Homo sapiens: one gene and its partners. The protein of the gene in region 3 interacts with the protein of the main gene of each other region in a pairwise test. Each region holds a gene or a part of one and is shown on either strand. Other genes may lie near its edges. The genes, in order: TSNAX, CTNNBL1, BEX3 and ING5.

Region 1 (8,176 bases), on a different chromosome or scaffold from region 3:
CACATTAGAAGTTGAGAAGTGCTATGAAAAAAGGGCCACAGTGTGTGCTGGGTTTATGAGGAAAACCTCAGTATTTGGGGTAAGCAAAATAAAGCCTTTGCTAGGAGTTAGGTTGTAAAGTTAAGAGGTAAATGAAATCCATGTGGGAAGAAACCAATGGTACCACGTGCTAGCTTATGACCCTGAGCATAACTTGTGAGCCTCAATCTCCCCGCCTGTGAAGTGGTAAAAATATCTATGATTTAGAGGTATTGCAAAAACCTATGAGATTGTGAATATAAAGAATAGTGGCTAAAAACATATCTTAACTGGCCCAAAACATCCACTTTACCCATCATTCACATTCTTGGATAAAAGAATTAAAACATTAATTAGGATATAAACTTAGTTTTGTGTACCGAAATGTCTCAAAAAATGACAATTCTTATCATTATCAGTGATATAAACTAAACTTAAGAAAAAAACATGTATTTCTTCTTTGAAATGGAGGACATTTCCCCCAAACTGTTAATTTTTCAACAAGAGGGAAAAAAAAAATGACAGGACACAAATTTTTTTTTAAAGACTTATTTCAAGCAGCTAATTATTTGTTCATTTGTTTAACCATCCCTTGGGACAATCTGTAATCTACTCTGATAAGAAATGTGTAGAAAACAGACCTGACGTTTTGTTGTTGTTCAATTATTAGGATACTCAATGTTTGAGCTCACACAAGTATCCCTTAGGGAAATGCTCTGCGTGCCATTAGCACTATTCTTAATGAGGAAAAGCACAGAACTCCTTTAGTTCATTGCCAGAATTGTTTTATCTTCAAGTCAAAAGAACAACTATTTGGAGTAATACCAAAACAAGCATTTAACAATTACAAGCAGCAAGCTATTCATAAGCATCATATTGTTAATGCTAATCCAATTATAAATAACCTTATTTTATCAAATAAAATATCTGTCAGCAAAATTTTCGGTCCTAGACACCTCTTTACTTGACTGCTTTATTCCTTAACTTTAAGAAAAAACATCTTTATTGCTTCAATTCAAAGAATCTCATTTTAAAGACTTTTTACAGAAAAGATACAGAAAATCCTTCATTATTTTAATCCATGAGTAAGTTATCTTCAAAGGAAACTTACAAATCATAAACGAAGGCCTAAAAGAGACCACTGTGCTTATAATAATCCTCAATGATACAGTGAAGTAGGAAAATCTGAAGATCTATCATTCCCATTTTCTTAATGTCCTATCTTTCCAAGAGTACAGCACTTCCTTCCTGCATTAGGAAATAATCTACTGAATATTTCCCTTTCACCTTTTTCTCTCCATTTCTCTGTTCTGTAAGACAATGTACAGCTTTCTAGGTTGCTTTTGGTATCATTATCTATATGGCCTTGGCCCTTATTTAAACTCTTTATCTTTATACTTCACTGATGCATGAGGACATACAAAATAGAACTACTGGGCCAAATACAGCAAATCTGAAATGTCCCATATGTCCCACAGATATTTGGGGAACTTGATGTTGTCACAATTAGTAGAGCCTAATCATGCACTAATAAGGAATTGAGAAGTCTAAACATGAAAAACTTTTTCACACATGAGGCACCAACATTTTGGGGAAAATATGTGAATTTTTATTAAAATACAAGTTTTAAGCAGACTGAAGTCCAAAGTGAGAACTACTGTGATCAGCTTTTATTACATTTATTAACTGTCATGAATTTTTGCAAGATAGGCATACTACATGATGATGTGATAGAAAAAATGATAAAGATTATGGAAGTTATTCAAACTCTTGCCTTTAGTCATTCAGGTTAATAGGATACTTAGGAAAAGCTGTAGAATTGGATTTCTGTTTAATACAGACATTTAGACTGTACTGCTGCTTCAGTTCAAGCACTTTCCAGAAACTAAGAGACCTAACTTGGTCCCCCACCACCACCAACACTACCACCCAGTAGCCCTCAAGATTACACACGCATACCTAACTTATGTATAGCAGGACTACTCTGTCTGAAATATTTTCCTGCTATGAATCTATCTGTAGTATGGTCACAGCTACTATTATAAAGATATTCTCATGTTTTCTGCCAAGCTTGATTTACCTTTTACTTCACCCTTCTTCCCACCAGTACTTCTGATCCTGTCTCCCACTCCAGCCAAATCTGTCACACTTTACAGGTTGTGCCACTTTACAACAAACTAAATTCATGAAGTCATCTTTATTGTGTGTGCTATTATTAAGAAATCAAATAAACCCCTGATATTAATAAATTATGATGGCAGACTGTATTTCATTTGGTAATATGTTATAATGACTCCTCACAGAACTGTTTTACACTTCAGTTTCCAACAATGCACCCTCAGTTTTAACTAATGTATGCTGGTACTTTCTCTTACCCATATTAGAAGACATATCAACATTTCTGAAAAAACAAGTGCTGAAATTATAAACGTTTAGGCTAAAACTGGGTATTCGTATTAAGCAGATACCAAATAAACTCATTTCCCAGTCTTCCTGCAAATCTTAGGGTACTGATATTGAGCATTCCTAATCCAAAAATCCTAAATCCGAAATGGTCCAAAATCCAAAACGTTTTGAGTGCTGACACGATGCTCAAAGGTCATGCTTAAAAGAAATGCTCATTGGAGCATTTCAGGTTCCTGGATTAGAGATGCTCAAGCAGTAAACTGTGAATATTTCAACACTCAAAATCTGAAACACTTCTGTTCCCAAGCATTTTGGATAAGGGATACTGAACCTGTATCTGAATTATCTAGTATCTGTCCTATCAATGAACCCACATTAGAAAAAGAAGAAAGAGGAAAGAACCAAGCACTTTATACATTTATTCAATTTATTTGAAAATAATGATAACCACCAAGATCCAGTATACCCTCAAAATTTTTTTTTTTTGAGACGGAGTCTTGTGCTGACGCCCAGGCTGGAGTGCAGTGGTGCGATCTCGGCTCACTGCAACCTCCACCTCCCGGGTTCAAGTGATTCTCCTGCCTCAGCCTCCGGAGTAGCTGGGATTACAGGCGCCCGCCAACGCACCTGGCTAAGTTTTGTATTTTTTAGTTGAGTCGGGGTTTCACCATCTTGGCCAGGCTGGTCTCGAACTCCTGACCTGGTGATCCACCCGCCTCGGCCTTCCAAAGTGCTGGGATTACAGGCGTGAGCCACCACTGAGATGTGCCCTGTCTGAACACATCCTACATACTCAAGAATAAAGTTCATCCTATTAAATCTGTGTTCTCAAATACTTTATTAAAATCAATCAATGACCATCACTACACTGTTAAAAAAAACATAAAGCCAACTTGCCTTTGGATTACTTCTATATTACTACAAAGTTGCAGTTCTTTAAAAGCCAGTATTATTATTTCATCAGGTGTCACTTAAAATTCATGCAACTCACATGTTAATCATGTAGCACACCATTTAAAATATATATTACCCTGAAACAAACCTAGACTTACCTGTAGTAATGGCTCGATGGAACTGATGCATATCTTCCCCTGATAGCTCTTGGGCTACCTGGAATATCTTTTGTCTGACACCATCCAATTTAATTTCTGATTCAGTCAATATATCTTCCATATCAGGAGCACTATGATCAAGATATTGGGAACTTTTAGAACATCAGATGCTTTAACAGTGAAAAACTAAAATAACCTAATTATCAACATAGGGCTAAATATTGTATGCATTCATATACTTCTAACTCAAAACTACTCAAAACTATTCATAGTATGGAGAACATGAAAATGTTATTAACACACTGTTAAGTGAAAAAAGTATACAAAAATTGTATGTTTACTATAAGAAAAATTTTGTTCATAAAAATATGATATATGGATAAATGTCTGCTTTCAGTAAGGGCAGAGTAACGTGGACTGGATTTATCCTCCCTCCTTAAACAACTAAAAAGAAAAAATAAATACAGAAAACAATGGTTACAGACACTGGACTACAGGCAGCATGGAGCAGTGATCCCTGGGGAAAGGGAGGAGAACAACATATACCCTCTGACTGCCCCATCTTATTGCCTGGAAAGCTTCCAAGTGACAGTACAGAGACAGGAAACTTAGGTGGAGCCTGGGAGTCAGCCTGAGTAGAAAAGGAGTTGGGAGTTTTGGGGGATCGAGACAGCTAAAATTTGCAGAGCAGAGTAACAATGAGGAGAAAGCTGTATAAACAGAGAGCTTCAGAGATTTATAGAAGCAACCTCCTCAAGTCTTCAGTTGAGTACTGATCAGTGCAGGCATGTGAGGAAACTACCTAAGGCTGGAAAAAGAATTGCCCAAAGTGAGCAGGCAGAACAATCCCCTTAGTTCACAGAGCCGGAAAGAATTGATTTATCATCAGCAGATTGACACTACAAAAAATATTAAAAGAAGTTCTTTAGGCAAAAGGAAAATGATACCAGATAAAAATCTGAATCTATACACAAAGGAATGAACATTTACAAAAATTGGTAAATGTGGATAAATATTTTTCTTATTTTTAAATCATACTGTTTAAAGTAAAAATCATAACATATTGTGGAAACAACAAAAGTAGAAATAACATGAATCACAACAGTAGCACAAAAGGCCAAGCTAGTAGAGGGGAAATGGAAAAGGAAGTATAAGATTTTTATACCATACGCGAAATGATAAGTAGTCCTTACTTTGCATGGTACTGTGTTAACTGAAACTTGGGCACATCAAAACTGTGACCTTCACTGGCAAAGTAACTGTTACCAAAAAATCATGCAAAGTGAAAAGATTCTTGTATGCACAAATTTTAGTAAACACAGTATTGTACAAAGTGAGAATAGTTGACAATAAGATATATATTATGAACCATAAAACAATCACTACAAAAACAAAACAAAAAAGGCATAGCTAATAAGCCTACAAATAAGATAAAATGGGATCATAAAAAATTATCCAAAATAAGGCAGGAAGGAGAGAAGAATAGATGGTAGATTTAATTATAACCATAGCAATAACTGCATTAAATGTAAACGGTCTAAACACCTGCACTAACAAGCAGAGATTTTCAGAATGGATTTTTAAAAAGCAAGAGAGACAAGAAATCCATGTTAAATATAAACACAAATAGATTAAAAATAAAAGGATGAAAAGATATACGTTCTAATAACAATCAAACGAAACAGGAGTAGCTATATTAACATCAAACTTTGGGCAAAGCCTATATCCAGGGATACCATCATAATGATAAAGGGTCAATTCATTAAATGCATAACAATCCTAAATATTAATGTACCAAATAAAAGAGCTTCAAGATACTTGAAGAAAAAACTGATAGGACTTCAAGGAGAAAGTCAAATCTACAATTATCGTCAAGAGAGGTCACCCTCTTTCTCTCTTAATAACTGATAGAGCGAGTGTACAGAAAATCATAAGGAAATAAGTGACGCGAACACCACTATCAGCCAATCTGACTTAATTACACCTAACAATAACAGAATACACACTCTTCAAGTGCACACACAACATTTACCAGATAGACCATATCCTGGGCCAAAATTAAGGCTCCATAAATTTAAAAGGATTCAAATTATAGAAAGTATGTTCTCTGACCACATGAAATTAAATTAGAAATCAGTATCAGAAAGTCGTCTGGAAAACTCCCAAAATATTTGGACACAAAATAACATACTTAAATTATTCTTGGGTCAAAGGTGAAATCAAAATGAAAATTAGCACCAATAAATTTCAAAACTTAGAGGAAATGGCAAATTCCTTGAAAGACACAAACTACTGAAGCTCACTGAAGAAGAGTTATCTATGTCTATTAAAATAATTTTGTAGTTAAAATACATGAGGTCCTCTCACAACAGTTTTTCAGCTGTACTGTGACTGGCTCATTTCTTTCATAAAGTTTTTTTTTTTTTTTTTTTTTTTTTGAGACAGAGTCCTATTCTGTCACCCAGGCTGGATTGCAGTGGCACAATTCTGAGTTCAAGCAACCTCCGCTTCCTGAGTTCAAGCAATTCTCCTGCCTCAGCCTCCCGAGTAGCTGGGATGCCACCAAGCCCGGCTAATTTTTATATTTTCAGTAGAGACAGGGTTTCGCCATGTTGGCCAGGCTGGTCTCAAACTCCTGACCTCAAGTGATCTGCCTGCCTTGGCCTCCCAAAGTGCTGGGATTACAGGCATGAGCCTCCACATCCAGCCTCTTTCATGAAGTATCTTTACTTTCCTGAAGTTTCTAATATTTCTAAAGTTTCTATTTTTTTCTTAAGTTTCTTATTTTTCTGAAGTCTATTATTTTCTCAGTTTACTAGTCAAAACTGTATGAACAGTATGATCACAACTATGATAAAAAACAGTGCACAAAATAAGAAATCTGCTAGTTGATAGAGGCTATCTTTGGGTACTACAGACTGATTTGTCTCATTAAGTAGCTTTACCTTTCTGCCATTCGTAATTTTTCTAAAGACTACCATTTTCTAAGTTTACTATAATGAGCATTTATTTTTTGGTGGAAAAATATTTAAAAGATGACTTCACACAGTAACGCAGATTTTTCTAAAATATTAAGGTCTCCTGTCATATTCCTATTACAGGTTGAGCATCCCTAATCTGAAAATCCGAAATCCAAAATGCTCCAAAATCCAAAACTTTCTTAGCAACAAGACACTCTAAGGAAATGCTCACAAGAGCACTTCAGATTTCAGATTTCCAGATAAGGGATGCTCAACCCATACATTATCTGCAAGTATTCCAAAATCCGAAATCCAAAACACTTCCAGTCCCAAGCATTTAGGATACTCAATCTGTATGTTTTTCTTTATATTATTGCTTTTGTTATTTATATTACTGCTGAATACTGATGGCAATTGTTTTAGAATTGTAATAAGTACTAAAAAAAAGTGTCCATAATTAATAAGAACAGTATTGCTTCTTTCGATAATACAAGCCTTATTATGTACAAGCTATCTAAGAATGATATGAGAAAACAAGCAAAAACTAATTTTACACAGTCAGGTAAGAAAAAGAAAATGTTAACAGTGCCATATTTCAATAAATCTATGTATGGCAAATTAGATTCCATTTAATGAAGTAAAAATTAAAATGTGAGAATTATCTTAAAAGTTTCATGTTACTGAACGGAATACTTCAGTATCTTTTTTTTTTTTTTTTTTGAGACAGGGTCTCATTCTGTCGCCCAGGCTGGGGTACAGTGGCACAATCATGGCTCACTGCAGCCTTGACCACCTGGGCTCAATCAATCCTCCTGCCTCAGTCTCCTGAGCAGCTGGGACTACACTTGCATACCACCATCTCCAGCTAGTTTTTTGTATTTTTTGTAGAGATGGGGTTTTGCCATGTTGCCCATACAGGTGTGAGCCACCATGCCCGGGCAATAATATCTTCAATAACGAAAAGCTAATAAATTATATGTGATCTTCCCTACATTCTTTCTGTGACATATAGTATAAAACCAATCACAGCTACCCTTCTGGAGACATCTGGAATTTGTAACAACAATCCGTCTTCAGAAGCTGGACTAAAACACGTAAGCTGGGGAGTTGTAGGGTAGATACTATTCTACCTCTCGTGAAACAGGCAAAGGAATCAGGTCAAATGAATTATGAAGCAAACAAAGAAGCAAAGATGGAAGATGGAGATCCTCAGCTGCTCATAAGATAGTGCTGAATCTTGGGAAGTTCTAATTTTTCTGAAGTCTGCTATTTTCTCAGTTTACTAGTCAAAACTGTATGAATAATATGATTACAACTGTAATAGAAAATAGTGCATAAAATAAGAAATCTGCTAGTTGATAGTGGCTTTTTTTATAATTAATTTCCCCGTTCTGCTTAGACTAGTTTAAGTTAGTTTCTTTTACTTGCAATCACGAAGTCTATCAAATATACAAAGCCTGCGTAGAAAAATAAAATAGTAAAGTCCTAGAGAAAAAAATGTAAACAAAAGTCACAAAACTGAAACAGGAACTTTCGAAAAAGAATTAAGTAGTCAACAGTATCATATGCTACAAAAATGTAAAATAAGAAAACAGAGACTTAATAATATGAAGGTAACAAGGGCATTTCAATAATTGTGAGGCAGAAAGCCAGACTGCCATGAGTTCAAAAATGAACGAGAAAATAGGTTATGCAGATTTTAACATTTATCTAATATTAAAATTTTCACGCATATCATCC
Region 2 (8,803 bases), on a different chromosome or scaffold from region 3:
GTAGGAGCTCAATATTGATGATAAATATATTTTATAAGTGTGTTTTTGAGAATATTTTCTTAAAGGCTCTTCCAATAAATAATTTACTGGGCAATGAAAAATGGAGAAGGTGACTCTGATTACACTTTGGAGCATCTAAAGTGTGAAGTTTAAGGAACCTAGGCAGCCCATGGCTATTTAAAAGCTTTCTGGAAGGGGTAATTCTTCCACATTTTTTTTAAAGGTTACAGCCCAGCAGTTGGTCTCTTGAATGGTGCTCTTCTCCTAACTCCCTCCTGGATGCCACTCTGAAATCATTATCGTCACAATTTCATTCTGCTTGGTGCATAGCACATAGCTCTTCTGAGCATTCCTTTTTTTGTCTTTAAAATTGAAATAGTCACATTGTTAGGATTTTGGGTGAGAAGTAAAAAAAAAATTTTTTTCTGAGACAGGATCTTGCTCTGTTGCCCAGGCTGGAGTGCAGTGGTGTGATCTTGGCTTACTGCAGCCCCAACATCATTGGCTCAAGTGATCCTCCCACCTCAGCCTCCTGAGTAGCTGGGATTCCAGGCACATGCCACCATACCCAGCTAATATTTTTATTTTTATTTTGTAGAGGCAGGGTCTTACTTTGTTTCTCAGGCTGGTTTCAAACTCCTGGCCTCAAGGGATCCTCCTGTCTTGGTCTCCCACAGTGCTGGGATTATATAGGTAGGAGGCATCACACCTGGCCTTTGGGTGAGAATTTGAAGGTATTTGAGATTGTTATGACCAGGAATTAATGAATCAATCAATCAGTAGATTAGTTGGTTCATTTATTAAATCAACAACTATTTAGTGAGTAACAATTAAGTGCCAGGTACTGTGTTAGGTTCTGAGTTTACTGTGGTAAATGATACAGCAATCTTTGCTCTTCTGGAGCTTAGAATCTGGAAGGGAAAGCAGTCCACAAATGGGTAAAAAGCAAACAAATATAAAAACAAAAACAATAAGTGTTCTGAAGATAATAATGGTCAGGAATGCTGATAGAGAATCTTGAAGGGGAGGAACTGTCTTAAATCTTGTGGTCAGGAAAGATTCCTCTGATGTGTGCAATTAAGCTGAGACCTGAAGGGTGAGCGCCCCAAGTCTCATTCCTGGGGGTTCCCAAAGAATTATTAATGGACCCTCTCATCAAGATAAAATGAAAATATCTTAATCTGGCATTCAAGTTTCTCCAAGATTAGGGTTGCCAGATAAAATAAATAATGCCCATTTAATTCTGAATTTCAGACAGAAAACATTTTTAGTATGTTATTAAATATTGCATGAGACAAATTTATAAAAAATTCATTATTTGTCTGAAATTCAGATTTAACTGGGTGTCCTGTATTTTTATTTGCTAAATCTGTTAACCCTCTTCGTGATCTTCTCCAGCCAGCCTCTCCACCTTTTCTTCCACACATTTGAAGCTCTGTCCACAAGGAAGGGTCCAATTGCCTTGTCTTTGCTCATGCTGTTCCCTCTGCCTGGGTCACCATTCTCCCACTGTATCTTCTTGGTAAACTCTTCTTTCCCTTTAAACCCCTGTCCAGATGTTACGTTCTCAGGGAAACCTCTAGCAGAGCACATTAGCCCCAGTTCAGGGTGCTCACCAAACCTGGTTCTTATAGGATTTTGCCTTATAATTCTGTGTTTTAGAACTGGTCTCTACAAAAACAGACAAGACTGATTGCCTAAAAAGGAAAGGTTATAAGGAATTCTCTCATTCTTCCTGCCCTCTCCCTTGCCCCTATCCCACTCAACTCCTTTTTCTTTCTTTTTTTTTTTTTTTTTTTTGAGAGACAAGGTCTTGCTCTGTCACCCAGGATGCAGTGGCACAATCCTGGCTCACTGCAACCTCTGCCTCCTGGGCTCAAGTGATTCTCCAGCCTCAGCCTCCTGAGTAGCCGAGACTACAGGCACGTGCCACCACATCTGGCTAAATTTTTTTTCTATTTTTTTGTAGAGACAGGGTCTCACTATGTTGCCCAGGCTGGTCTCGAACTCCTGGGCTCAAGGGATCCGCCTTGGTCTCCCAAAGCTCTGGGATTACAGACATGAGCCACCGTGCCCAGCTGCCAACTCCTTACAATATTAATATAAGACACACAGCACTTTTCTGTGCCAGGCACTGTGCCAAGTGCTTTGCATACAGCATTTCATGTAAACCCTCCATAACCTTATGAGGTAGATTTGGTTGAATCTCCACTTTGCAGGTGAGAAAATCAGGCATGTAGAGGTGAAGTTCATTGCCACTGTTTCCACATCTGTAAAATAAGACTCATATCAACATTTTCTCCATGAGGTTTTCACCCAAACTAGAATGTAGGTTTCCAGAAGGCAGGAGCTTTGTTTTATAAACTTCCATATCCTCAGAGCCCAGAATTGTGCCTAGCATTGAGTAGGCTCTCAGTAAATACTTGTTGAATGAATGAATGAATGAATGAGTCATGTTACAGATAAGGAAAGTGTAATTTAGGGACAGAGAAAGTAACTTACCCAAGGACCCATGGCTAGATATGGTGGAACTTCCACTAGAACCAGAATCAGGGTGTGTTGGGTAGATGTTTAACAACTGGCTCGGCTGGGTGCAGTGGCTCATGCCTGTAATCCCAGCACTTTGTGAGGCCAAGGCGGGGGGATTGCTTGAGCTCATGAGTTTGAGACCAGCCTGGGCAGCATGGTGAAACTCTATTTCTACAACAACAGCAACAACAACAACAACAACAAAATAAGCCAGGCATGGTGGCGCACGCCTGTAGTCCTAGCTATTTGGGAGGCTGAGGTGGGCTTCAGCCCGGGAGGGGGAGGTTGCAGTGAGCTGAGATCCCGCCACTGCACTCCAGCCTGGGTGATAGAGCCCGAGCTTGTCTCAAAAGCAAACAAAGAAACAAAAAAACCCTACAAGTAGCTCTCTGGAAAAACAACAACATTAACAACCCTGATTTGTAGCATTTGCTGATTTACATTGTACAAATACTCCTAGCATGGCTGATTTCAAGCTATCAACCTGGTGTCAATCAGCTTGCAAGTTTCCTACAAATTTAACCATGGGCTTTTGTAGACCTGTCTGTGCAAGCTGGCATCAACATACCATGAACTAGAACACAGGGGTCTGGGTCCAAAGGGTACACCCTCACCATTACTCTCTCCTGTCTTCCCAAACAAGGCACAGTCTATATTCTATTTTTTTTTTTTTTTTTTGAGACGTAGTCTTGCTCTGTCGCCAGGCTGGAGTGCAGTGGTGCCATCTTGGCTCACTACAATCTCCACCTCCCTGGTTCAAGCGATTCCCCTGCCTCAGCCTCCCAAGTAGCTGGGACTACAGGCACGTGCCACCACACCTGGCTAATTTTTTGTATTTTAGTAGAGATGGGTTTTCACCATGTGGGCCAGGAAGATCTCAATCTCCTGACCTCGTGATCTGCCCTCCTCGGCCTCCCAAAGTGCTGGGATTACAGGCGTGAGCTACCACACCCGGCCGGGCACAGTCCATATTCTTATATAAGTAGGAGGGGGAAAGACACCCAAATAGACTGAATTCAATGCAGATTGCATAGGTGATCCTTTAAAAACATAAGCCCAGTCACAAAACTACCTTGCTTAAAACTTTCCTTATGCCGTTAGCATAAAATCCAATCTCTCTCTCTTTTTTTTTTTTTTTTTTTTGAGACAGAGTCTTGCTCTGTCACCCAGGCTGGAGTGCAGTGGTGGAATCTCAGCTCACTACAGCCTCTGCCTCCTGGGTTCAAGCGATTCTCCTGCTTCAGCCTCCCAAGTAGAGGCATGTGCCACCATGCCCAGCTAATTTTTGTAATTTTTAGTAGAGACGAGGTTTCACCATGGTGGTCAGGCTGGTCTCAAACTCCTGACTTCAAGTGATCTGCCCGCCTTGGCCTCCTAAAGTGCTGAGCTTACAGGCGTGAGCCACCACGCCCGGCCACGCCTAGCCAAAATCTAATCTCTTTACCATGGCACACAAGGCCCATTATGAAACCTCTCCCTCTACCAGGCACTGTACTAGGCTTGGGGGATACAGTGGTGAACATGACACACACATGTCCTGCTTGCATAGAGCTTGCAATCCAGTAAATGAGGCTGTCAAGAAACAAATAGTCAACCATTAAGCACAAAATTACAGAATGAGATATATACGTAGTGGAGCAGGTACTTGGAAAAAGAATAATGAGGAGAGAGGTTGATTACCTGGACCAGGGTGAGTTGAAGAAGCCCTTGTAAGAAAGTGACATTTGAGACCCGAAAGATGAGAGAATTGGATGAGGTATGGTGCTGATGGCCAGGCAGAAGGGGAGAGGATTTGTCATTCTGAGGAATAAGAATAATTTCTGTATAATTGGAGCCAGTGCAGATGGGATGGGGACCAAAATTATAAATATGAAGGGCATATAAATATAATATAATACATAAATATAATTATAAATATAAAGGACAGGGGCTTATGGAAGGAGGTTTAATTTCCTTTGAAGATGGAGCCTTAAGTCCCAGGTGCATTCTGATCTTGTTTAAGATCAGATGCACTCTGAATGATTCTCTTCCAATTATGGGCAACTTTCTCCTCCAGAAACCTTTTTATATCACCTGGGTAGCAAGGGGATCATCTAGTGACCGTTAGACTTCGCATAGATGAGCAGACACAAGCCTAGAGAGGGACATGTGATCACCAATAGTTTCTCAGCCAGTAATAGTTGTACAGCCTTGGAACAAGTCACTTTTTGAGCCAGCACTATCTGATAGAAATTAATGGGAACCACAAATGAGAGCCACATGTGTAATTTAAAACTTTCTACTAACCACATTTAAGAAGTAAAGAGAAACAGGTAAAATTCATTTTATAATATATGAATTTGACCCAGTATATCCAAAATATCATTTCAACCTGTAATCAATGTAAGTCTTAGAAATCTGGTGTGTATTTTATTTACACTTATGGCACATCTCACTTCGGAGTAGCCATATCTCAAGCGCTCGGTAGCCATATGTGGCTAGTGAGTAAAGTATTGGATGGTGCAGTTGGGAGCGTCAGTTTCCTTTTCTGTGAAATGAGGATAAATCACTGGAAGCTCGTGAGAGCGCACACGAAACACCCGGCACTCCGCCCTGGACACTAGGGACGCGCAATCAAGTTTGGTTTCTTCTGGTCCCTGCTCTCCCCTCCCGCCCCTCCTCTAAGTCTCCGCCCCCTTTCCCCGCCCCCTCAGGCTCCAGGCGGAAGCAACCCTGTTCCAAATGCAGCGCGCTTTACGGCGGCGCGTCCTTTTACCGCGGTGTGGCCGGCTCGCTTGTCGCTCGCACTTTTGCCCTATTGGCTCTGCGGCTCCGCTCGCCGCACTTTACGGCAGTGTGGCTGGAGCCGCGGCTGACGGGCCCGCGGTCTGGGCGTGAGTGCAGGGAAGTGGAGTATTTGCTGGGCCGGGTACCATGGACGTGGGCGAACTTCTGAGCTACCAGGTATGAGGGGCAGGGAGGGCCGAGCGACCGCGTTCTCACCTGGGCAGGGGTCGCAGGAGCCAGAGCCCTTTCATCTCACCTCCTCTCGCCTCACTCCCGGGCCCTCTAACTTCTCATGCCACCCGGGGTCTCAGCCCCTCGTTTTACTTTGCTCTCCGAAGCCCTCCTGGGCCCTTTCGATTCATCCCTTCTCAAGACCTGAGCCCTTCACCTCCTCTTCCTCACCCTGGGGCCTGGTTCCCTGAAACTCCTCTGAAACCCCAGACTATCCTTTTTTTCACAACCATGTCCTCTCAGCTCTCATGTCCCCCCAGTCATTGAGGTGATGGTGGTGGCGGCGGTGGGAGTGCACTGGTCTCACTTGGATTTGATCTCCAGCTTCTCCACTGACTGGCTATGTGGCTTTTGGACAAGTCATTCCCCCCCTCTTTGAACCAAGTTTTTGTATCTATATAGTGGAGACACTAATAACTGCCTTAGTAGGGTTGTTTGAGGACTGTACCAACTGATATGTATGAAAGCTGGTTTTAAAGTGTGGAAAGCTGTGCTTGTGTTTACTGCGATTTGCAGGAGATGTTGGGAATTCTAGCATGGAATGAGTTTCTAGGAATCTTGCTCAGGGTCCCCCTTGCCTAGGAAACTTGTGGGGAAACTGTATGGGACCTAGAGAGCAGAAAGGGCTTGTCCAAAGTCACTCAGAAACAAGGAGCTGGAATTTGAGCTCAGGCGTACTGACTTCCACCCCAAAGTTTTTCCCCCACTTTGATTCCATAGGAGGGTCATTGCGAGGAGCAGTAGAGCTGCACTGCCGAATGTCGTAGCCACTAGCCACATAGGCTGTTGATTGCTTGAAATGTGACTAGTCTGAATTGAGAAATACTGTAAGTATAAAGACACATTTGGGTTGGAGACTAGTATGGAAAAAGTGAAATTTTTATATTGATTACATGATCGTACTGATTATATCAATTACATTGGTTATTGGTCATATTGATTAAATGATCATATTTTGGATAATGGGTGAAATAAAATATACTTAATTAATTTTTAAAATTTTATTTTATTGTTATTTAGAGACAGGATCTTGCTCTGTCGCCCATGCTGGAGTGCAGTGGCACAATCATTGCTCACAGTAGCCTTAAACTCCTAGGTCTAAGGTATCCTCCCAAGTAGCTAGGACTGCAGGCAGGCATCACTATGCTTGGCTGATTTTTAAATTTTTTGTAGAGACAGGGTCTTGCTATGTTGCCCAAGATGGTCTCAAACTCCTAGCCTCAAGCAGTCTTCCCACTTGGCCTCCCAAAGTGCTGGGATTACAGGTATGAGCCACCACACACCACACTCAGCCAATAAAATATGTTTAAAACCAATTTTAACTGCCCCTCTTGACATTTTAATGTGTTTACTAGAAAATTTAAAACAACATATATAGTTCAGCTTATATTTTTGTTAGACAGCCCTGCAGTCAAGAATAGGTGATTAAGAGCCATGAGTCTGGACCCCTAGGTTGCTGGCAGTCTCTGTTTTGCTACTAACTGGCTGCTGTAACCTTGAACAAAATACTTAATTTCTCTCTGCCTTGGTTTCTTCATCTGTAAATGGGGGACAGTGACGGTAGCTGCCTCACAGGGCTGTTGTGAAGCTGTTGAGAAATGGAAAGTCCTTAGACAATGCTTGCCAAAGAGTAAACATTCAGTAAATATTAGCAGTTATTTTCATACCACTCCCTCAGCCAAAGTACAAGAAATTGACCCTGGACGCTTAAGACATCATGGGAAAGAACAGTTCAGCAATGGGGAGCTATATAGCCAAGAGATTTTTCTTTTAAAGACAGTTTAATTGATAGTGAAAGATGAAGGGAAATAGGCAAGTTATTAAATCAGTGATTGTATGCCGGCTTGGAATTTCTAGAATGGCTAGCCCATTAAAGCTAGAAGAGTTTCATTCATTTGCTCAACAAATATATATTGAACACCTACTGTGTGCAAGGCAGTCTATCCACTGGGTATACAACACTGAATAAAAGACAAGATTCTTGCTTTTGTGGAGCATCTGGTGGGAAGTTACAAGATAATAAGTAAACAATGCATTCAGTTTGTGGTAAGTGCTGGGAAGGGAATATAGCAGAGTATGCTATAAAATTGCACTGCTTTGTATAGTAGCCACTAGGCACATGTGATTATTGAATACTTAAAATGTGACTAGTTTCGAATTTAGATCTGCTACATGTGCAAAATACACACTGGATTTCAAAGATTTAGTATGAAAATAATGTACAATATCTTTTTTTTTTTTTTTTTTTTTTTTTGAGATGGAGTTTCACTCTTGTTGCCCAGGCTGGAGTGCAATGGTGAGATCTCAGCTGACTGCAACCTCTGCCTCTTGGGTTCAAGCGATTCTCCTGCCTCAGCCTCCTGAGTAGCTGGGATTACGGGCATGCGCCACCACGCCTGGCTAATTTTTGTATTTTTAGTAGAGATGGGGTTTCTCCATGTTGGTCAGGCTGGTCTTGACTCCCAACCTCAGGTGATCTGCCAGCCTTGGCCTCCCAAAGTGCTGTGATTACAGGCGTGAGCCACTGCCCCTGGCCACGTGAAAATAATGTACAGTACCTTAACTTTTATGCTGATTACATGTTGAATAAATGATAACACTTACGATATATTGGATTAAAGAAAATATATTATTAAAATTAATGTTGCTTTTTAAAAAACTTTTAAAATGTGGCTACTAGAAAATGTAAAGTGGGCCGGGTGTGGTAGCTCATGCCTGTAATCCCAGCACTTTGGAAGGCTGAGGCGGGTGGGTCACCTGAGGTTGGGAGTTTGAGACCAGCCTGACCAACATGAAGAAACCATGTCTCTACTAAAAATATAAAAAATTAGCCGGGCGTGGTGGTGCATGCCTGTAATCCCAGCTACTTGGGAGGCTGAGGCAGGAGAATTGCTTGAACCTGGGAGGTAGAGGTTGCAGTGAGCTGAGATCATCCCATTGCACTCCAGCCTGGGCAACAAGAGCGAAACTCTCTCTCAAAGAAAAAAAAAAAGAAAGAAAATGTAAAGTTAGGTGTTTTGTTTGTGGCTTTTGTTGTATTTTTATTGGACAACACTCCTGTCGAAAATAACCCCTGGGAGTTGGGGACAGGACCTTTTACTTTATGTAATGTGGTCGAGGAAGGACACAGAGGAATGGGCATTAAAGGACTGAAGGTTGAGAGGGACCCAGTCATGTGAAGGGAGCAGAATGATGGAGGCAGCAAGAACAGCAAGTATGGACATAGGCTATTGGTAGAAGCTGGTGCAGCCTCATAGGGGACCAGAAAGAGGATCTA
Region 3 (8,032 bases):
TGTTTCCAAACAAGGTCACAATCAGAGGTTATAAGGCTTAGGACTTCAATATATATCTTGGGGGGATACAATTCAACCCATAGCACATATGGTATAAATATATTTCTCCTGTTTCTTCTCTGTCTTTTAAATTTGTGTGAAAAATCAGGTTCCCTGGCCAGGCGCGGTGGCTCACGCCTGTAATCCCAGCACTCTGGGAGGCCAAGGCGGGTGGATCACAAGATCAGGAGATCGAGACCATCCTGGCTAACACGGTGAAACCCCGTCTCTACTAAAAAATATAAAAAATTAGCCGGGCATGGTGGCAGGCGCCTGTAGTCCTAGCTACTCGGGAGGCTGAGGCAGGAGAATGGTGTGAACCCAGGAGGCGGAGGTGGCAGTGAGCTGAGATTGTGCCACTGCACTCCAGCCTGGGCGACAGAGCGAGACTCCGTCTCAAAAAAAAAAAAAAAATCAGGTTCCCCTTGTTGCACTGTATACTAGCAATGGAACTTACATGGGAGTAGTAACAGTGAAATAAGATAAAGTGACTTCATGAACGTTTATGCATGAGTTTTGTTACTCCTCAAAGTTCATCCCTAAGTCCTGGGAAAAGTAAGAAAGGTGCTCACCTCAGCCTAAAGCTAGAAGGGCCAAAGGAGTTCTCTTGGCCTACACATAGTCCAGCTAATGTCATCAGTTTAGGAGACTGCATAGGGCAGAGCTCCTTTTCCACCAGAGTCCTAAACAACAGGAAAGAGTGGCCACGGGTCTCCGGTGTCTCAAGATATTATCTGCAATCCATGAAATAAAGAAAAGAATACCCCTCAGTTCCCCAATAGATAATGAGGTGCTGAATATTTGCTGCTTTCACGTTCAGACATCTTAGTCTCATAGCCCTTTTATTTTTTCAGACTAGATCTCTTGAATTAAATATATTATCTCCCAAATCATTGAAACTCTTACAGTGACACCCTTAAAATTTCATCAGATTCATTCCACATTTTGGAAATCTTGGCATCAAAGTTATAATGGCCATAGCTTAGAGGAAAGCTGGAGTAGGCATAATTTCCTATATTCTTAACACCTAGTTTCAGTCTGTAATCGGTGCTTAAATTTAGAGAGAAAGAGAGAATCACAATAAAAAAGTATCAGTAAAGCATCAGAGAGGTACATAGAGAACCTATTCTAGGCAGGAACAGAGATACTCATACCCACAGGGCCCACTAGGGCTCAGACTACCTTCTCCCAAGCCTAGCATTTACACAGGAGAGATAATGAGAGGAAAACAGGACAATAACCACAGTCCAACCAGGTGCATTTCAGACAAGTACATGTGAGCCATGTCATGGCAATACACATAAAGATTTCAGCAAAAACGAGCTTCCACTGATGGGATACTAATACAATAGAGGGATCTTCACTAGTTGAGGTCAAATCATGAAACAGTTTTATTTTTCCAATAGCTGTATCAGCAGTGTTCTTTCTATCACTCCCTCCCCCACTTCGCATGGGGCAATGGGCTTCTTTAACTACATTTCTGTCCAGTTCTCCAACTTTTCAGTCACTACTGCTTATTAAAATAGTTTCAGTCAGACTAAAGATTTGGTTCTATTCATTTTCAAATGCCAATCTCACTTTTCATTCTGAGTCCTCCTGGTGCCTCCAGGGCAGATTAGAATTGAGGCTCCTGGGCTTGAAACATGTGTAAAACGTGTGTGTGGGGATAAGAACCATCTAATCAGTTCACCTTCTCTCTGCCTTTTGGGACACATGAATCCCAAATGCAGAATATAGTGTCCTTCTAACTTGGCCTTGAAAAAATTTGTTTTTGTTCTCAACAGTGTGCTGTCTATTTCCAACTCCTCAGAAAACTTCAGGGTCAAGAAAACATCTCAATCAACTCCTATTCACAACATTTTAGTAAAGATAACAGCATTTCCCGGATAATTTTCACCTATCTTTAAAACATTACTTTATTACAACTAATCAATATAGCATAATATCCAATCTGGATGTTACAAACAAATGTCTGTTTTCATCCAAGGAAATTTGATGGTTTTGAACACAGGATTTATCCAAGATGGGTGAAAAGGAAAACAGCAAAGCATTTAGCCACCAAAAGAAATAAAAATCCACTTGCTAAACTTCATATCCAATAGTCACATCACAGTGGCTTCTCAGCTTTCAGGAGATTTTTTTCTAGGTAATTCTTAATTTTCATAAAAGCTTTTCCGTATTGCTCTAAATACAGTCCCCAGAATGAAAAACAACCTATTCGCCTCAGTACTGGATACATTCATTCAACAAGTATTCAGTAATCACCTACTTGGTGCAAGGAACACTATTAGTCACTGGGTACACAAAATAGAACACAGCAAGCATGTTTTGGGCCCTCATGGATTTTAAGAACAAGTGGGTCTAGCTAAGGAAAGAATCATACTCTGCTACTCTTTAAATCATGTTAGAAACCATCGAATAACAATAAAAATAATGTCAACAAAAATTGATGATTTACTAGGCTATGTAGTAAATTATTGTTATGTGTAATTCTAACAATCCTTGTTTCACAGAGGAAGCACACAGACCTTGATAAGTAATTGATCCAAAGTTGAACATCAAGTAAACAGCTGACTGAATTTGAAGCCAGACTTGTCTGATACTACTGTTCATGCTTTGAAACTGCATCATTCCAGCTGATATCATTAATATAGCAATCTGTATAAAAAGTTCTTAACTGTGAGACAGAATCCAGGAATCACTAACATTTCTTTAAAAGACAAATATTGAGTGTGATTTTATAATTTGATGTTTTGGAGCTATGTACTAATATATCCATATACCTCTAGAAGAATATATATGTAATTTTATATGGAATACATATCTCCAAAACGTCTAACTACATACACACTGGGCATATACTCTTCCTTTATTCACTGTGTCATCTGGTTTAGCAGGGTAGGAAATTCTACAGGAGTTTGGGGCCAAAACTAGAGTTAGTAAGCATTTGTCTGGCTTGTCTTGCCTCAGTGCTGCATTTAATGCTTTTGGTTCCTTATCATAAACAACAGATATCAAATATTTTTTATAACAATGCCACTTTTCTAAAGACATCTCTATTTTCTAGCTGTGATAATTTTTTTAAAAATGATTTCAAGTTGGAGAAAGGAACATTTGCACTCAGGATAAGGTTCAGTCTCAAGTTAAGTTGTTTCACACACCCCCTGCTTATTTCTAATATATTTTGAAACATTCGCACCAAAGGGTAGATGGTTTTGAAACTACTTTCTGCATAATATGTACTTAACTTCTGAGCTCATACTAAGAAGATATTTGTAGGGATGGTTTGAAAGGTTTGGAAAGGAAAGCAGGGAATAAAAGACTCCCTTTCTCTGATGACTGTGATATCAAAAACATCAAAGTTACATAAAATGGTGAAGATCTGACGACCAGACTGCTCCCTGAAGATTCACTTTACAGATCATTTCGAAAACACCAACTGTGTTCAGAAAGAGTCCCGCCTTTCAGGCGCCTGTAGTCCCAGCTACTCCGGAGGCTGAAGCAGGAGAATGGCATGAACCCTGGAGGCGGAGCTTGCAGTGAGCCGAGATCGCGCCACTGACTCCAGCCTGGGCGACAGAGCGAGACTCCGTCTCGGGGGAAAAAAAAAAAAGAAAAAGAAAGAGTCCCGCCTTTTTATATATTTTTTTCTTTTCTTTTTTTTTTTTTTGGAGACGGAGTCTCGCTCTGCCGCCTAGACTGAAGTGCAGTGGTGCGACGCGGCTCACTGCAACCTCTGCCTCCCGGGTTCAACGATTCTCCTGCCTCAGCCTCCCGAGTAGCTGGGACTACAGGCACGTGCCACCACGCCTGGCTAATTTTTTTGTATTTTTAGTAGAGACGGAGTTTCACCGTATTAGCCAGGATGGTCTCGATCTCCTGACCTCGTGATCCGCCCGCCTCGGCCTCCCAAAGTGCTGGGATTACAGGCGTGAGCCACCATGCCCGGCCAAAAATAAAATTTTAAACGAGCTAGTATGTATCAAAAGTAATGGCTTGATGTTGTGTGGAGCCCAGAAAAAATATTTTGTGTGGTACAGGTCAACATAAACAATGAGAGATTTCATTGTGCAGGATAAAGCATTTCCTTTTTTTTTTTTTTTTTTTTTTTTTTTTTTGACAGGGTCTTGCTCTGTCGCCCAGGCTGGAGTGCAGTGGTGCGATCCCGGCTCACTGCAACCTCCGCCTCCCAGGTTCAAGCGATTCTCCTGCCTCAGCCCCCCGAGTAGCTGGGATTACAGGCGCACGCCACCACGCCCAGCTAATTTTTGTATTTTTAGTAGAGATGGGGTCTCACCATGTTGGCCAGGCTGGTCTCACACTACTGGCCTCAAGTGATCCACCCGCCTCGGCCTCCCAAAGTGCTGGGATTACAGGTACGCCACCGCGCCCAACCAGCATTTCTTTCAAAATTAAAAACTTATAATTTATAATTTTCTGAAGCATGCAGATTTTTTAAGGAAATAAAAAGAAATATATACAGTCCACTCCACTTCCTTGCCCCGCTTTCTGACAAATGCCCTCCTGCCTCCCCACCTTAGCCCTCACTCTAAATTTTCTAGAAGGGTAGGAATTCAGGGGCTACGTGGGCATTGATGGCTGTGCACACGCAAGGGGTAGAAGTGGGAGTGCAGCGCAAAGCATGTTGCCAGGTAGAAAAGGAGAGAAAGCAGAAAAGGCCAAAGCCAAGGCCTGAAGTGAGAGGGGGCAGTGGTGGAGGATGATGCAGACCCTCCCTGGTAACCAGAGGAGGGCAAACTCCAACCGCAGAGCAGTGATGCCACTTGTGGGCCCTCAGATTGGAGAGGACCGAGAAGAGTGACAGGGCTGTGCGCTCTGGGGCACCTCATGCAGACGGGAGTAGGGAGGCTGTTTTTTGCGCGTGCATATGGCGGTGGCGGGTGGGGGGAAGGGGGAGATCCTGCTGCACTGGCCGCCCAAGTTGGGGGGCGAGCTCGGTGGTGACGCGCGGCCCTCACGTGACCCAGAGCTGCAGAGCGACGCAGCCTTCGGTGCAGTCGTCACTCGCGTCTGGCTACCAGCTCCCCGCTGCCCTGAGCTCGGCGGGCTGGCATTCGGCCCGGGGAAAAGCGGAGCAGGTAAGGGCTCCGGGGCCCGTGAGCCCCGGCCATGCCAGCAGCGGCTGACCGACCTCGGCGACAGGCGCAGAACAGCGCAGGGGGTCCCCGCCAGCTTTCTCCACACCCCAACATGCTTGGGAACACAGAGGCCCCCAGGGATGGGGAAGCAGGGGCGGCTGGGTTTCCAGGGGCGGCAGAGCCACCAAGAGCGATGGAAACCCACCCCCGAGTCCCTGCAGGAAAACAGCGAACACCGCGGGGGGCTGGGCGTTCGAGGGTGGGGTGGGGGTGGGGGGCGGGAGACGCGGGGCGCTGGCAGCGAGGGGAGCCCGGGCTCGGAGCACGGAAAGGGCCGGGCGGCGGCGGGTCTTCGCTAGCGTTCCGCTGCAGCAGCCCCCACCCCCCACAACCCCCACCCCGGCTCGACTGCAGGTCTGCGAGGCTAAGTGTCTCCGCGGCGCACCTCGCGGCGAGAATCCGGAGGAGAAGGAGACTGCAAGGATAGGCCCAGGTCGGTGCGAGGGACGGTGGTGGGGCGGGGGTCGGAACGTAAGGAAAGCCCAGTCTGAGACCCCAACCCCCTCCACCCCATCCCCCACTCCTATACCGGTCCTCCATTTTGGTGCCTGCAAAGCTCTGGGAAAGAATCCCGGGAAACGAAAAATGGTGGGTTTGGGGGAAGGGAGGTAAGGGGAGAAAGCTGGAGGGAGGGGCTTTAATTGGAGGCCCCGTAGAGGACGCGCGGAACTTCTAAGGTGGGAAAAAACGAAATTAAAAAATCCTTTGATATCAGGGCTCTGAATCCTGCTGGTCAGAGCACCAAGCATTCAGTCTCTCTCCTTGCCTTTGTCTTACTTGTGTTCAAAGAAAAACAACCAGAAAAAAAAAATCTCATCATGGCAAATATTCACCAGGAAAACGAAGAGATGGAGCAGCCTATGCAGAATGGAGAGGAAGACCGCCCTTTGGGAGGAGGTGAAGGCCACCAGCCTGCAGGAAATCGACGGGGACAGGCTCGCCGACTTGCCCCTAATTTTCGATGGGCCATACCCAATAGGCAGATCAATGATGGGATGGGTGGAGATGGAGATGATATGGAAATATTCATGGAGGAGATGAGAGAAATCAGAAGAAAACTTAGGGAGCTGCAGTTGAGGAATTGTCTGCGTATCCTTATGGGGGAGCTCTCTAATCACCATGACCATCATGATGAATTTTGCCTTATGCCTTGACTCCTGCCATTTATCATGAGATTAATACTGTGATTCCCGCTGTTTTCTTTTTCCTTGCATTTTCCTAATATGCCTTTACTGATCCGTTTGCTGTGAACCCTATGTTATTTCCATGTGTCAAGTGGGTCTTGTGTTGCCAGCTTCTATTTGAAGATTGCCTTTGCACTCAGTGTAAGTTTCTGTCAGCAGTAGTTTCACCCATTTGCATGGAAAAATTTAAAGCTAATAAAGCAATTTAAAAAGCAATCTATACATTTATTGTCTCATTAAAAATGTATACTTACATATAACAGATGAACTAAAAAAAAATCTGAGATTAAATACACTAGAGTGTTAATTGGTGAACATTTCTGTGTGTTAACTAATCCCAGCACTTTGGGAGGCTAAGGTAGGCAGATCACGAGGTCAGGAGATCGAGACCATCCTGGCTAACACGGTGAAACCCTGTCTCTACTGAAAAAAAAATACAAAAAATTAGCCGGTCGTGATGGCACACGCCTGTAATCCCAGCTACTCGGGAGGCTGAGGCAGGAGAATGGCTTGAACCCGGAAGGCGGAGGTTGCAGTGAGCCGAGATCACGCCACTGCACTCCAGCCTGGACGACAGAGCCAGACAGTCTCAAAAAAAAAAAAGTAATATGTGACATTTTTTTCCTTTTATTATCTGGAGTTTGAGAAGCAATGAAAATTATTTTTCAATGAGATTATGAATGTAGTGCAGATACGTAACAATACTGGCTCAACAAATTTGAAGAGTAAACTCTAACTATCCTTCAGTCTTAACTGGAATAATAAACCTTCCCTTTATTACAGATGCATTCCTTTAAAGAGCCCGTTTTCTGCTCTGTGAAATGGGGAACAATGCTTGTCTTACAGGGCTGCTGAGTGGAACTGATGAAATGTGGAACTGTGTTGGGCTGGCTTCTGTCCCCAACTCCCCAACATTTAACAGGACCGGGACCCCCATCAGGTACTTAGGACTGGAGGAATTATCACTCATGTTTACAAGTCCAGACAGTGAAAATAGGTGGGTTCCCCCATATCATTCTTGTTATTTGCAATCCTCCTGCTCCCCTGATTACTGCCTTCTTGATTGGCCACACTTTCCCTTCTGCTGGATCCTATTTCTGTTGCTGTTGATGAGGTGCTAGGGTCTTCAAGGTAACAAGCCCCACTGATTTCTCTGGAGTCTCTGGTGAGCCAAATCCCCCTTTGACCTCTATAGAATTGTGGAGAATGTCTTTATAACTTGAGAGTTATATTTATCCTGGTGAGTACAACTCTTGTGGTTCTTGGGATTACATTGGTTCTTAGAAAAATAGCCCTTTCTGGTTTTCTTTCATAACTCCTTCAAATAACTCAGACAAGAGTGCACTGCGGCCTAACTGAGAAAATGCATCTGAGTGTGCCCTGAATTGCATTACTGCAAACCTCCACAATACAAACAGGCTGAAGGCTTTATTTGTGCCTGTGTTTCTATCCTTGATACGGATTTTCTCAAAGGAGACTCTTGGCAGGCCTGCCCACCCAGTTTAACAGACTTACCTAGACATGTAAATTACATTGGGAGAACAAATTTTCTTTAAAGCGGAAACACACTCCCTTCTTGTCCATACCTGAACCATGAAACTACTCTGTAAGTTCTTAAAAACTATATTAAGTATTTGGCATTGTTATTTC
Region 4 (5,116 bases), on a different chromosome or scaffold from region 3:
CGGAGCCATCCTTTCGGTGGTAGTTGGGGAAGGCTATGCAGATTTGCTCTGTTGTGACGCGTTGGTGACGGTGCCCAGCCTGCGGTTCCCCACAGCATCGCAGGCGCTCGGAAATCCTCTCCCGTGCCTTTAGAGGAAGGAGAGGATTGCTGAGGAATGCAGGGACGCCTGTTTCTGTCCTCACACCACAGAAAGAAACCTGAGGGAAAACTGAGACGTGAGGTTCCTGATTTAAGAAGCCTGGGTTTCTTCATGGTGGGGGGCCATTTGGAATGACAGCCTCACTTCCTTCTGATGGCTACATCTGTATCTTTTCCTCCTGTGTTTAATGTTTCACTAGGGAGAGGAAATAAAGCAGAAGGAACGTGTGAAGCTCTGTGTCTCAGACGGGGCCCTCCCGTCGAGAAGCTGGTAGTCAGTGAGTGAGAACAAGAGAACAAGAACACCCTGAACAGTCCTGGTTGGGATGGTGTCCACATTCATGTTCTGCGGTTCTTGAACACACGGATGCCTCTGGGCCACCTGTCCTTTTCCGAGGGTGTGGGTGGGAGTGGATCCTCCGGGCGCAGGTGCCAGGCAGGTGCAGGCGGGCGGTCGGCCACTGCTGCTGCTCGTCCCTGCCAGTGTCTGGGCCTGAAGGGGCTCCCTCCAAGCGGTGCCTTCCTGCGGCTTAGAAGGGAAAGCGCCAGAGAGGGCAGGCTACAGTGCTTCACACCCTTCGCCACGGCTGTGAAACTGGAGATGGGTGGGTTTTGTATGTTAATTTTTTTTTTTGAGACGGAGTCTTGCTCTGTCACCCAGGCTGGAGAGCAGTGGCGTGATCTCGGCTCACTGCAAGCTCCGCCTCCCGGGTTCACGCCATTCTCCTGCCTCAGCCCCCCCGAGTAGCTGGGACTACAGGCGCCCGCCACCACGCCTGGCTAATTTTTTATATTTTTAGTAGAGACAGGGTTTCACCATGTTAACCAGGATGGTCTCGATCTCCTGACCTCACGATTTGCCCGCCTCGGCTTCCCAGAGTGCTGGGATTACAGGCGTGAGCCACCGCGCCTGGCCACCCAGCTAAGTTTGTATTTTTGTTGGAGACGGGGTTTCACCATATTGGCCAGACTGGTCTCAAACTCCTGGGGTCAAATGATCCGCCTGCGTCGGCTTCCCAGAGTGCTGGGATTACAGGTGTCAGCCACTGCGCTCAGCTGGGAGATGAATTTTCATTTAATGACTTAACTTTTTGTTAGCACAGGTTTTGTGTGTGTGTGTGTGTGTGTGTTTTGTTTTTTGTTTTGTGTTTTTGAAACGGAGTTTTGCTCTGTCACCCAGGCTGGAATGCAATGGCACCATCTTGGCTCACTGCAACCTCTGCTTCCTGGGTTCAAGTGATTCTCTTGCCTTAGCCTCCCGAGCAGCTGGGATTATAGGCGTCCACCACCACGCCCAGCTAATTTTTGTATTTTTAGTAGAAATGGGGTTTCACCATGTGTGGCCAGGCTGGTCTCGAACTCCTGACCTGAAGTGATCCACCCGCCTCGACCTCCCAAAGTGCTGGGATGACAGGCATGAGCCACCGCACCCGGCCAACACAGATGTTTATTGATCGTGGAGGATACATTGTGGAAAATGTTTTTCTCTCTTTTACCATTTTTGGGAAGAGGGATAGGTAAGTGCAGGGAGTTTGTGCTGAAACAGCGCCTGGCAATTTTTCAGAAATGAATTTGATATTGCGCTCCACCTTTGAGCTGTTCACACCTGTGGCTACCCCTGGAAAGCGCTGGGGTTGTTGATGCTTTTGGCTGCCCGGCTTCCTGAGGTCTCGCTGCTTTTTGGGGAAAGATGACTGGCTTCCCTGTGGGACGCTTTTGTCTGACACGTGATGATGTGGTCCTGCCTGCCACTGTGCACCATCCCAGGTATTGAATTTTGACCTTTTCTTTTCAAGTTTCTGTGCTTAGTGTTTTTAATGTTTACTTTTGCCACTTACAATAATATCACCAAAATAATATGCATAGAGTTTTGGAAGAAACATAGAAAACATGAGCAGAATGAGACAATTCCTTGGGCTGTAGTTTGGACCCAACTGAATCCTGAGTGCTCTGTGGCTGACGCTGTCTACCCGTGGGAGAGACACACTCAGGAGTGGCCGTTTGGCCAGAAAAGAAGGTCATGGCCCCTGGCCTGGCCCCCGCCCTGCAGGGACACAGAAGCCACACCATTTGCACCATCCACGCCTTGCTCCAGAAGGCCTGGCCGCCTTCTCCCTGGGGGTGATTCAAGGATTTGGTCTCGGACCAGACCCCCCTCCACAGCTGCCCGGCCCCAGACCCATCTCTTGGATTGAGGGTGTGTGGGCTGGAACCAGTGGGTCACTGTGGCAGCTTCATCTGAGCCGAAGGTGTGGGTCCTCTGTGGCTGTGCGATTGACCTCGATGGGAAGGAGCGTTCTACCCATTTTCCTTGTTTTCAGTGCTGCGGTATCAGTCAGTGATCTGAGGAAATCCTGTAGGGGAAGGCAGGCTGCAGTGAAAACAGGAGCTGGTGAAACCGAGCCCTCTGCATCTGCGAATGTGCCCTAGGTGCTGCTGCTGGGGACATGGATGCCAAGCGGAGGCCTGCGTGGCCTCCTGAGCAGCAGCTGACCGCCCGTCTCATGCTGGACGGGACCCCTGGGCGGGTGGACATGAGACCACTGTTGGCCAGGGACGCCGTGCGGAGGCCTACGTGGCTGCCTGAGCAGCAGCTGACCGCCCGTCTCACTGTTGGCCAGGGCTTTGTGGCGTGGGTGTTTTCCAGTCTGCCTGGAGCAGCGAGAAGCAGCTGTGCAGACTGGTGGCGGTGGGAGGGTTTGCTGGGACTGATGGGGACACCGGCCAGCTTGTCTGGTGTCCAGCAGCCCTGCCGGACTTGGCCTCCTGTCCTGTCGTTGGGAGCCCTGGCTGGGGCTGCTTTGAGCAATGACGCTGGCCCAGAGCAGCTTCCCACATGACCCCAGAGCCGAGGGTCTGCCCTGTCCTAGGTTAGGTCTTCATGGTTTAGAGTAAAACCGTGAGGGATGTTAATTATGGGCATTGAAGACTTAAGGTTTTCTTAAATTTTTAGTGAGCAGTGATTGGCCTTCAATACTTGTGCTGAGAGGAATTTTAAGCCAGGGGAAGTGTAAGAAAATGTTCCCATTCAGGAGAGATTGTGTTGGAGTTTCTTTCTTCCTCTGTATGTATTTTGTGGTGTCCACCTTTAACCACGTTTCATCCAAAACGATGATGCAGCTTTAACATGAATGTTACATTTTTATTTTCAAGGAATTATTATCTATGTTCCCTTTGTAAAGGAAAGATAATGTTGTAAATCTTTTTATTAGATAATGTAAAGATGTATATCAGTATTTTTGGATCATGTTATAGATTATGGATATATTGTTTAATAAATAAAGTATTTTTTGGAACAAACAATTGAAAGTGCATCTGTATTAGCCCGTTTTCACGCTGCTGATAAAGACATACCCGAGATTGGGTAATTTGTAAAGAAAAAGAGGTTTTTTTTAAAAAAAATTTTCTTTTCTCTTTTTTTGAGACGGAGTCTTGCTCTGTCACCCAGGCTGGAGTGCAATGGCACTGCATGATTTCGGCTCACTGTAACATCTGCCTCCCGGGTTCAGGTGATTCTCCTGCCTCAGCCTCCTGAGTAGCTGGGACTACAGGCACGTGCCACCACGCCCTGCTAATTTTTGTATTTTTAGTAGAGATGGGGTTTTGCCATGTTGGCCAAGCTGGTCTTGAACTCCTGACCTCAGGTGATCTGCCTGCCTCAGCCTCCCAAAGTGTTGGGATTACAGGCGTGAGCCACCGCACCTGACAGAAAAAGAGGTCTGGTGGACCCTCAGTTCCACATGGCTGGGGAGGCCTCACAATCATGGCGGGAGACGAAAGGCTTATCTTACATGGCAGCAGACAATAGAAAATGAGAGCCAAGTGAAAGGGGTTTCCCCTTAAAAAAACCATCAGATCTCGTGAGACTTATTCACTACCACGAGAAAAGTATGGGGGAACCACCCCCAAGACTCAGCATCATTTTGGGAAACAGGTGTAAAATGTCAGTGTTGTGCCCAGAGACAGGTGTGTGAAATTGAATTCTGAAGGGGTATGCAGTGATTGGAGAGTGGTTTGCGGAGCTTGCTGGCTGGGGGTCTGGGGAGGACCCTGTGCCTTACCTTGGGTGGTTGCTCAGGAAGCTCAGTGGCCAGTGCTGGGGCTCAAGTTGACTTCCAAGGAAGACGTGTGAGAATGCTGCAGTTGCTTTCTTTTTTTTTTGTTTGAGACGGAGTCTCACTCTGTTGCCCAGGCTGGAGTGCAGTGGTGCAATCTCTGCTCACTGCAAGCTCCGCCTCCCAGGTTCACGCCATTCTCCTGCCTGTGTCCCGAGTAGCTGGGACTACAGGCGCCCACCACCATGCCCGGCTAATTGTTTGTATTTTTAGTAGTGACAGGGTTTCACCGTGTTAGCCAGGATGGTCTCGATCTCCTGACCTCGTGATCCGCCTGCCTCGGCCTCCCAAAGTGCTGGGATTACAGGCGTGAGCCACCACGCCCGGCCGCTGCAGTTGCTTTCTAAAGGAGTACTGTGCTTGCTCTGGAAGGGCAAGACTTACCGTGTTGCACTTGCCTTTTGGAAGCTGCTGGAGTCAGCTTAGGCTCTGTATTAGTCCATTCTTGTATTGCTATAAAGAACGACCTGAGACTGTGTAATTTATAAAGAAATGAGGTTTAATTGACTCACAGTTCTGCAGGCTGTACAGGAAGCGTGGTGCGGAGGCCTCAGGAAACTTACATCATGGCAGAAGGCGGAGGGGAAGCAAGCACGTTTTACCACGGCAGACCAGGAGAGAAAGGGAGCAAAGGGGAAAGGTGCCACACTTTTAAACAAGCAGGTCTCCTGAGAGTTCACTTACCTCCACAAGAACAGCAAGGGGAAATCTGCGCCCATGAGCCAGTCACCTCCTACCAGGCCCCTCCCCCAACATTGGGGATTATGGGCGGGGACACAAATCCAAACCATATCAGGCTGTTATCACAATACCACAGACTGGGAGGCTTAAGAAAAATGTCTTATATTTCTGGAGATTGGA

The links.
Region 1: the proteins of BEX3 (region 3) and TSNAX interact in binary tests that used the Homo sapiens proteins (3 or more experiments, as listed by UniProt).
Region 2: the proteins of BEX3 (region 3) and CTNNBL1 interact in binary tests that used the Homo sapiens proteins (3 or more experiments, as listed by UniProt).
Region 4: the proteins of BEX3 (region 3) and ING5 interact in binary tests that used the Homo sapiens proteins (3 or more experiments, as listed by UniProt).

Annotation. Positions count from the first base shown.
Region 1 is NC_000001.11:231,537,912-231,546,087, reverse strand, and holds part of TSNAX (translin-associated protein X), read right to left. Parts: intron 3,608-8,176; coding exon 3,477-3,607; intron 1-3,476.
Region 2 is NC_000020.11:37,688,681-37,697,483, forward strand, and holds the start of CTNNBL1 (beta-catenin-like protein 1), read left to right. Parts: upstream 1-5,349; 5' UTR 5,350-5,442; coding exon 5,443-5,472; intron 5,473-6,246; exon of another isoform or gene 6,247-6,353; intron 6,354-8,803. UniProt on the Homo sapiens protein: Component of the PRP19-CDC5L complex that forms an integral part of the spliceosome and is required for activating pre-mRNA splicing.
Region 3 is NC_000023.11:103,371,476-103,379,507, forward strand, and holds BEX3 (protein BEX3), read left to right. Parts: upstream 1-5,138; intron 5,139-5,552; 5' UTR 5,553-5,631; exon of another isoform or gene 5,632-5,987; coding exon of another isoform or gene 5,988-6,046; coding exon 6,047-6,352; 3' UTR 6,353-6,689; downstream 6,690-8,032. UniProt on the Homo sapiens protein: May be a signaling adapter molecule involved in NGFR/p75NTR-mediated apoptosis induced by NGF. Plays a role in zinc-triggered neuronal death.
Region 4 is NC_000002.12:241,726,039-241,731,154, forward strand, and holds the end of ING5 (inhibitor of growth protein 5), read left to right. Parts: 3' UTR 1-3,440; downstream 3,441-5,116. UniProt on the Homo sapiens protein: Component of the HBO1 complex, which specifically mediates acetylation of histone H3 at 'Lys-14' (H3K14ac) and, to a lower extent, acetylation of histone H4. Component of the MOZ/MORF complex which has a histone H3 acetyltransferase activity.